Linked DNA regions of Homo sapiens: region 1 is linked to region 2. Evidence: fine-mapped expression QTL. A gene starts in region 2. The other region holds a variant in brackets. All regions are shown on one strand. Distances are between the middles of the regions.

The links. PIP is the estimated chance that this variant, and not a neighbour inherited with it, causes the effect.
Region 1: its variant is the best candidate, but not a certain one, in a credible set for the expression of CYFIP1 in lung (TOPMed, PIP 0.72).

What each region holds. Positions count from the first base shown.
Region 1 is chr15:22,944,380-22,948,632 of GRCh38, reverse strand. CYFIP1 (cytoplasmic FMR1 interacting protein 1) reads left to right here. Exons shown (of 31, transcript NM_014608.6): 2 at 1,342-1,464; 3 at 1,541-1,630; 4 at 3,694-3,771; 5 at 3,974-4,075. The coding sequence starts at 1,348. Among named protein-coding and RNA genes, the nearest start is that of CYFIP1, 34 kb to the left of the region's middle. RefSeq lists an enhancer at 821-1,505. The variant G/A (reference allele first, on the strand shown) is at 2,292.
Region 2 is chr15:22,978,637-22,982,889 of GRCh38, reverse strand. CYFIP1 (cytoplasmic FMR1 interacting protein 1) reads left to right here and starts at 2,522. Exons shown (of 31, transcript NM_014608.6): 1 at 2,522-2,603. RefSeq lists enhancers at 2,257-3,225, 3,226-4,193.

The sequences.
Region 1 (4,253 bases), 34 kb after region 2:
GTGTTATTTTGGCATCTGTTGATTCTCTTTTCCTGTAGGAGCCCATACGTTCCTCGTTCTTTGTGTGCTGAGTAATCTGGGCTGTAAGTGGATGGTTGGATGTTATGATATGAGATCTGGGTCTTGTTAAAATCCTAGGAGGATGTTGATATTTTTATTTTAGAAAGCAAACACCCTGAGGAGACTTGGGCTGTGGTTCTGACTTGCCTTCAGTGGGTGGCAGCTCCATGTCAATTCTGGCTTCACAGCCTCCTGCACTGCCACTTGGACCTGCCCCCTGTGTGCCGCTGGTGGCTGTCTGGCTGTGGTCTCAGGGTTTGGGGTGTGAAGAGGATCAGATCCACACCCCTGCAGCTTGAGGATGGGCTTGAAGCTCATGAGCAATTTTGTCGGCTGGCTCTTCTGAGCTGCTTCCTCTCCACACTGCCACTGGGGCTTCCTGGGTCCCTGGAGAGCTTCCCTTCTCCACCCTCAGCCAGTGCAGTGGGACTGACTACCCGTTCCACTGTGCACCTCCATGCCTGCGCCAGTGCTGGAGGAGGGATTTGGGGCTCCTTCTGTTCAGTGTCTCCTCCAGGCCACCTGCTGCTCTTTCCTTCATAGAATGTGGCTCAGCTGCCCCTGGTCCCATCCCAGGGCAGAGCTCCTCCTGAGTACCCTTGAGACTGGAGCAGATTCAGCAGAAGGCAGATTGCCCCCTCTCCCTGGAGCTGGCTCTGAAGGTGTGTTTAGACGATGTCTGCCTTCATTTCTGCACCTCTGCTCCAGCTGCGGTGTGGCACTTTCTGTCCCCTGCGGCAGCCCCATACTCCTTGCAATCTCAGCCTGTCTGTGCAGCTAGACAGCTGGTGTTGGGCGGCAGGGCGCTCGTCTTTTCCATGTCAGGCCCTAGTGTGTTTGGAGGCACCACCTGGGAGGTGGCTGCATTTAGGGAGGCTCTGCTGGGCAGATGTGGCATTGGAGAGGTGCTGCCCCTCCAGCACTTTGAGGGGGTCGTCAGACCCTCGAGAGAGTCCTCAGCACCAGCAACTCAGGACGGCGGCCCCCATGGTGGGAAGGATGGCAGGAACCATGTGCCCCATACTGTGACCCTCCTGGAGGCCAGGAGAGCCTGTTCTCAGCGAGTGTGGAAGGATAAGCTGCACAGGGCCTCCCAGCCTGCTGGCCCACGTGCCCTGAGAGAGACACGCAACTCCCAAGGACTGATCATGCCCCTGTCAGCCATGTCCGGTGCCCTCGGGAGAGCGGGAAGGGGTTAGAGGCCTGGGTACCCAACCTCGAAGCTTGTTGGGTGTCCCCTCCTTCTCCTCACAGAACAGGGGTCCTTATGTGTTGTTCCAGCCCAGGATGGCGGCCCAGGTGACTCTGGAGGACGCGCTGTCCAACGTGGACCTCCTGGAGGAGCTGCCCCTGCCCGACCAGCAGCCCTGCATCGAGCCCCCGCCATCCTCGCTGCTCTACCAGGTGGGTGCCCAGCAGCTGCAGGGCGTACAGCCTGTGCTCCGACCCCACATGATGTTTTTCTCTTCCTTTCCTTCAGCCAAATTTCAACACTAACTTTGAAGACAGAAATGCATTTGTTACTGGCATCGCAAGATACATTGAACAAGCCACCGTCCACTCTAGCATGGTAATGTTGCGGTGTGTCTTTGTTTCTCTCTGCAGAGAAGGGCGTGTTTGAAGGACAGATGTATACTTTTTGGTATTATCCCAATAGACTATGCAGTGAGGAAAAAGAGAAGAAAATGAATGAAATGCCTTATATTTTTAAGACAGTCTTTGCTTTTCTTAGTGTAAAAACAATACATGCTGGTTCTGAAAATTCAATGTCTCTGGCCCAGAGAAAACCTTTGTCAGCGTTTCAAGGGTGCACCTGCCCTGTTAATGCTCATTCCCTCTCCAGATCTGCACCCACACACACCAGGTATGTGCCCATATGAGATTTAGATTTATAAATGAATTGCATTGTTATTATAGTTCTGCTTTTTTTTTGAGACAGAGTCTTGCTCTGCCACCCAGGCTGGAGTACAGTGGCGCGATCTTGGTTCACTGCAACCTCCGCCTCCCAGGTTCAAGCAGTTCTTGTGCCTCAGCCTCCCGAGTAGCTGGGACTACTGGCGCCCACCACTACGCCCAGCTAATTTGTGCATTTTTAGTAGAGACAGGGTTTCACCATGTTGGTCGGGCTGGTCTCGAATTCCTGACCTCAAGTGATCTGCCCACCTTAGCCTCCCAAAGTGCTGGGATTACAGGCATGAGCCACCACACCTAGCTAGTTCTGCATTTTAATG[G/A]TCTCATCAACAGGTTTTCTTTCTTTCTTTTTTTTTTTTGAGATGGTCTCACTCAGGTTGCCCAGGCTAGAGTGCAGTGGTGTGATTAGGGCTCACTGCAGCCTCAACCTCCCGGGTTCAAGCAATCCTCCCACCTCTGCCTCCTGAGTAGCTGGGACTACAGGCACACACCACCATGCCCATCTACTTTTTTGTGTTTTTTGTAGAGGCGAGGTCTCACCATGTTGCCCAGGTTGGTCTTGAATTCCTGGACTCAAGGAATCCGCCTGCCCAGCCTCCCAAAGTACTGGGATTACAGCCTGAGCCACTGCACCTGGACAAGAATATTTTCATGCCATGAAAATGTGCTAGAGAAAGCAATCCTTAATGGCTACGTAAACCATTTTGTAAATGTCCACAATTCAACTATTTTTGCGCATTGACTTCCTCTTTTATGTCGTGTAATAAAAAAATGCTGTAGGCTGGGCGCAGTGGCCCACGCCTGTAATCCCAGCATTTTGGGAGGCCAAAGTGGGCGGATCACCTAGGGTCAGGAGTTCGAGACCAGCCTGGCCAACATGGTGAAACCCTGTCTCTACAAAAAAAAAAAAATACAAAAATTAACCAGGCATGGTGGTGCGCACACCTGTAATCCCAGCTACTCAGGAGGCTGAGGCAAGAGAATTGCTTGAACCCGGGAGGCAGAGGTTGCAGTGAGCTGAGATCGTGCCACTGCACTCCAGCCTGGGGGACAGAGCAAGACTCGTCTCAAAAAAAAAAAAAAATACTGTGATGAACGTCTCACTAAATAAAGGCTAGATTTAAGAGCATCTATTTGATTTTTTCCAAAGGAAACGATGTTAAAGAGTGGAAAGCAAAAGCAGTTTTACAGCAGTGATGACAGTCCTCTTCCCATGGACTCTCTACCTAGATTTTAAGTGCTGTGGGCGTGCTCCTAACTTTTCCTCCTGCACACCCGGGGCTGGCAGCCCTGCCTCTAGTCCTCTCTGGGACCGGGAGGCCCTGTGAGCCAGTGAGGAGGCCATGGGGATCCTGTGTGTGCTCACACCGGGCAGGGCGTCTGCCCTGAGCCCTTCCTCTGTGTTCCTAACTGCAGGTCTCATGGCCAGCAGGTTGTTGAGGGCTGGGTGGAGCCAAGGTGTAACGCCTGTGGCACCCCTCAGAGATGCCTGCGTGTCACTGACACCCCTCTCGCCTGCAGAAGCCATGGGGTGTTTTGGGTGGTCATTGTGGCCCCCAGCGCCGCACCTCAGTGTCACTAGCTTCTGGCAGCCGTCTCTTGGCACACAGGCCACAGTGCTTAGGATAGTTTGTGGCGCTTTGTCTGGATTTTAGCAACTGGCATCTGCTTTTCATGCTAGTTCCCCCGCCTGCCTTTGATTTGCCCTGTGTTCCATTGCAGAACGAGATGCTGGAGGAGGGCCAAGAATATGCTGTCATGCTGTACACCTGGAGGAGCTGCTCCCGGGCCATCCCACAGGTGCCACGCTCGCCTGGCTCTTCCCCTCCAGCCACACCCTGCCAGGCCCCTGCCACACCACACCCCTGCCCCTGCCATGCCTGGCCCACTCTCCTCCCAGTTCTCACCCCACAGCAGGGCGGGATCACTAGCTCTAGAAGCCCAGCGGCTGCTTCTGGCTGGATCAAAGCCTCTTATGTCATCCTTGTTCCTTTATTCCCAGGTGAAATGTAACGAGCAGCCTAACAGAGTGGAAATCTACGAGAAAACCGTGGAGGTTCTGGAGCCTGAGGTCACAAAACTGATGAATTTCATGTACTTCCAGGTAAAATGGCAAATAATCTGGGGGGGGTGTAACACCGAGGGGTGGGTTGCTGACCCCTTCCTACCCATCACTGTCACTGTGAACACCCTGAACAGAGTGCCTGCAAATTAAAGCAACCAGTTTCTGAGACAAAAGGGACCAAGCCTTTGACAGTCTAAAGTTCCTCATGCCCTTTCGG
Region 2 (4,253 bases):
TTGCCCAAGCTAGAGTGCAATGGCACGACCTTGGCTCACTGTAACCTCCGCCTCCCGGGTTCAAGTGATTCTCCTGCCTCAACCTCCCAAGTAGCTGGGATTACTGCAACCTTCGCCTCCCAGGTTGAAGCGATTCTCCTGCCTCAACCTCCCGAGTAGCTGGGATTACAGGCATGTGCCACCAGACCTGGCTAATTTTTTGTATTTTTGGTAGAAACAGGGTATGTTAGCCAGGCTGGTCTCGAACTCCTGACCTCAGATGACCTGCCCGCCTCAGCCTCCCAAAGTGTTGGAATTACAGGCGTGAGCCACCATGCCCGGCCTATTTTTTCATACTTAATTGACCCATTTATTTTTATCAAATGTCCTTTTTATCACTGATAGTGCCCCTTGAGTTGAATTCTACTTTGATATTAATATAATCACTCCACCTTTCTGATTAGCATGTCCTTTTGCATCTTTTTAATTTCAGCCTCTTTGTGTCCTTATATTTAAATTATGTCTTTTTTTTTTTTTTTTTTTGAGACCAGGTTTCACTCTTGTTGCTTAGGCTGGAGTTCAATGGCGCAATCTCAGCTAACTGCAACCTCTGCCTCCCGGGTTCAAGCGATTCTCCTGCCTCAGTCTCCTGAGTAGCTGGGATTATAGGCATGTGCCACCACACCCAGCTAATTTTGTATTTTTAGTAAAGACGGGGTTTTGCCATGTGGGTCAGGCTCGTCTTGAACTCCTGACCTCAGTTGATCCACCCGCGTTGGCCTCCGAAAGTGCTGGGATTAACAGGCATGAGTCACTGTGCCCGGCCAAAATTATGTCTTCTTAAAACAGAATATATTTGGGTCTCGTTTTTAATCCAATGTGACAATTTCTGTGTTTTAATCCATTTACAGTTAGTAAACGGATTACATGTTTAGTCCATTTACATTCAATGTGATTACTAATGTGGTTGAAGTCTAACTGCTTGCTCTTTGTCTTTGCCTTATGTGCTTTTTGCTCCTTCCTTCCTGCTTTCTTTTGGATCAAGCATATTTTTGTATTCTATTTTATCTCTTTTCTTGGATTTTTAGCTGTATTATTTTTTATTAATTGCTCTAGGGATTACAATATTTTATTATTTTAAGACGGAGTCTTGCTCTGTCGCCCAGGCCGGAGTGCAGCGACACGATCTTGGCTCACTGCAACCTCCACTTCCTGGGTTCAAGCGATTCTCCTGCCTCGGCCTCCCGAGTAGCTGGGATTACAAGCCCACACCACCATGCCCGACTAATTTTTGTATTTTTAGTAGAGACGGGGTCTTCACCATGTTGGCCAGTGTGGTCTCGAACGCCTGACCTCAGGTGATCCGCCCGCCTCGGACTCCCAAAATGCTGCGATTACAGGCGTGAGCCACTGCGCTCGGCCGGGATTACAATATTTTAAATTATCACAGTATAACTTGAATTTGGGTTCTATCATGTCATCTACAATGTAAAAACCTTTGGAATCTAATTTTGAGACTCCACCCTAGGCACAGAAAAGGAGTAATCTGCTGATTTGAAAATGTGTGGACTGGGAACCAGAATGTTATCCAAAGCCCCTGTTTTGCAGGAATGTGAGAAAGTGATATCCGAATATTGAGTCAACTGGTAGATTGTCTCAATCCGCTGGTCAGGATTCATTTGCTGCTTTTTGCCTTACCGCAGAGCACAAGCGGGGGTAACCAAACCTTCATAATCTAGAGACCAGACTAGAATATCTGATGCCCATCCTTACTGTTCTCCGTAAGAACCAGGGGTCGCGGATGAATGGGGAGTGAGGTTGCTGCGGCTGAGCGGGGCGTTTAGGGCAGTTTTCCTAAACACGCCTGTGACCAGCTGACTCCACTCAGCGTTTCCGTGTGAGGTATGTTTCTTCACCGGCCTTTCAAGATTGTTTTTTGGCACGAGCTCAAATCAGGTTTTCTTCCGTCCGCCGTTCCCGCAGGTCTGCGCACGGATTTGTCCCTGGTTCCCGCAGGCAATGGGGCCGCAGGGGCCGGCCGGGGGGGTCCCCAGCGGGCTCTGCGCGCCGACCTGCAGCTGGGACCCGCGCCTGGAACCCTCCCGACGAGCGCAGGTGAGCGCCTCCTGCCAAGTGGGGCGGCGCCACACGGGCGTCCTGGGTGTCCCCCTGAGCTCCTTCCGCAGCTCAGGCCAACCCCCGCCCTGACCCGGTGGAGCCCCGGGACAGGGTGCGGACCCCGTTCCTTCGCGCTCCGAACCGGACGGACCCGCAGGAGGACCCCACGCCCGCTCCGCTCCGACCCCGCCGTCCCGCGCAGGCTGCGGTGACCCAGGCCGGCAGGTAGCCAGGGGCTCTCTGCCTGGGAGGACACCTTCGGCGGCTGGCGTGGGGAAAGGGGCCGCCCGGCCGGGGATGCCCCGCCAGGAGGAGGGAGCGGCCGGGGCCGCGGCCGGGAGGGAGGAGCGCCGGGAGGAAGAGGCCGAGCCGGGAGAGCCCCCGCCCCGGGAGGAAGGGGAGGAGGCCGAGTGTTTCCTGGCGCATTCCCGGCCAGCCCGAGTGACTCACTCGGCCAAGGAAACTCCCAGGGCCCGCCCAGGACCCCCAAGCCGCCGCGGACGCAGGTGAGGAACCCCGCTCGCCCGCGCCTGCCCTGCGGCCTCCGCGGGGTCCGGGTCCCCCTCGGAACCTGGGCCGGCCAGGGCGGCGGCGGGGCCGGGACGGACCCCCCCCTCCCCCCCAACCCCGGCGGCGCGGCCTCCCCGGCGGCGCGGCCTCCGGGATCGTCCTGGTCCCCGCGTCCCCCAGGTCCCGGCCCCGGGCTCCCGCGCCTCCCGGGCTCCAGGTCCCCGCACTCCCTGCACTGGCTTCCCGGTCCCTGCGCCCCCGGCCTTTCGGCCTCGGCCCCGAGCTCCCCGCCCCCGCGTTCACCGCCTCGCGCCCCCGGATCCCGGATTCCGCGCCCCGGCACATGGCACAGCTCCAGTGGCGAAGGAATACCTTAGTGTTTGACGTTTTTGTTGGAAAGTAAGGAGCAGGCAGATTGTTAATGTTGCACTAAGGTCGCGCAGCAAGATCTGAACCCGTTTTTGTTTCGTGCCCCTGTGAGGAGCGGAGGGAGCCTGGTCCGCGGAGCCATTCCGGGCATTCTTGGAGAGAGGAGTTTTGGGCTTTGTTAAGGAGGCGCGATCGTTACGGAGGCAGCACTGTTTCGCACAAGCATCTGAATTGTGTATTTTAAGGCTGAAATGCGTGAGCTTAATTTGCAGCACATTGTGGGTGTGACAAGAAGGGTGCAAGAATAATCGGGAAACGGGGTTGATGGAACGTGTTTTAAGCTGAGAGGGGCGTCTGGACGGTGTCAGCTCCGCTATTAAGTCCAGTCAGGGAGCGGCTGCTGATTGAGCCCAGCGCCGCGTGGTCGCCGCTGGGGACTGAGGCTCGGGAGCGTTTGTTTTCTGGCGGCGGAGGGCACCGTGGCTGCGCCGGGAGCGGTGGTGTTTCTTGCAGTCGTCCGTCGGACTCCGGAATGAGGCGTGGTCGGAGCCGCGGTGATGCCTGGTGCAGTGCGCACATTGCTATGCTTGACAGCTTGGCGGCAGAGTCCCGGCCAGGCCGGGACCCGCGGGGGCCCCACGCATGCTGCCTTTTCCCTGCGGGTGGCCAGCGGTTTTCCAAGTGATGTCTAGATCTGCAGGCACGGAGCCTGGAAGAACGAGTCACGCTGTGAGTGGGCGCGGGCCGTAGCAGGTGTGCACTCGTAGGGCCAGTAGGGATATAGTGCCGGTGCCCTCACTGCGACCGAGGCGCCCTGGAGTCGTGGCGGAGGACGTTTCCTGCGTTAAGACAGGTGTCTGTGCTGCGCTCAAAGAAAATGTACCCCCTAAGTTTGTGTGTGTGTTTAAATTTATTTTAAACTTTTAGTAAGATTCACTTTTTGGTGTTCAGTTCAGTGAGCTGTAGCAGGTGCATGGACTGTAGTGACTTCCACCGCAGTCAGGATACTCAGGAAGGCAGCCTCTCTCCTCCCCGCTCTTGCAGCCGCCTGTCTGTTCCTCAGTCCTCCTGCTTTGCCCATTCCAGAATGTCACATGTGGGCTTGGAGTCTGGCTTGTTTCGCTTAGCATAAGGCGTTGGAGATTCAGCTATGCTCTGGTTTGTCCCTGAAGAGTAAAGATACAAGGGTCTGAAAAGTGTGGCTCTCGGATACAGCCTGAGAGAGAGACTAAAATGATAAAGTGATGAGAAAAATTACAAAACTATAGTTCATTAAA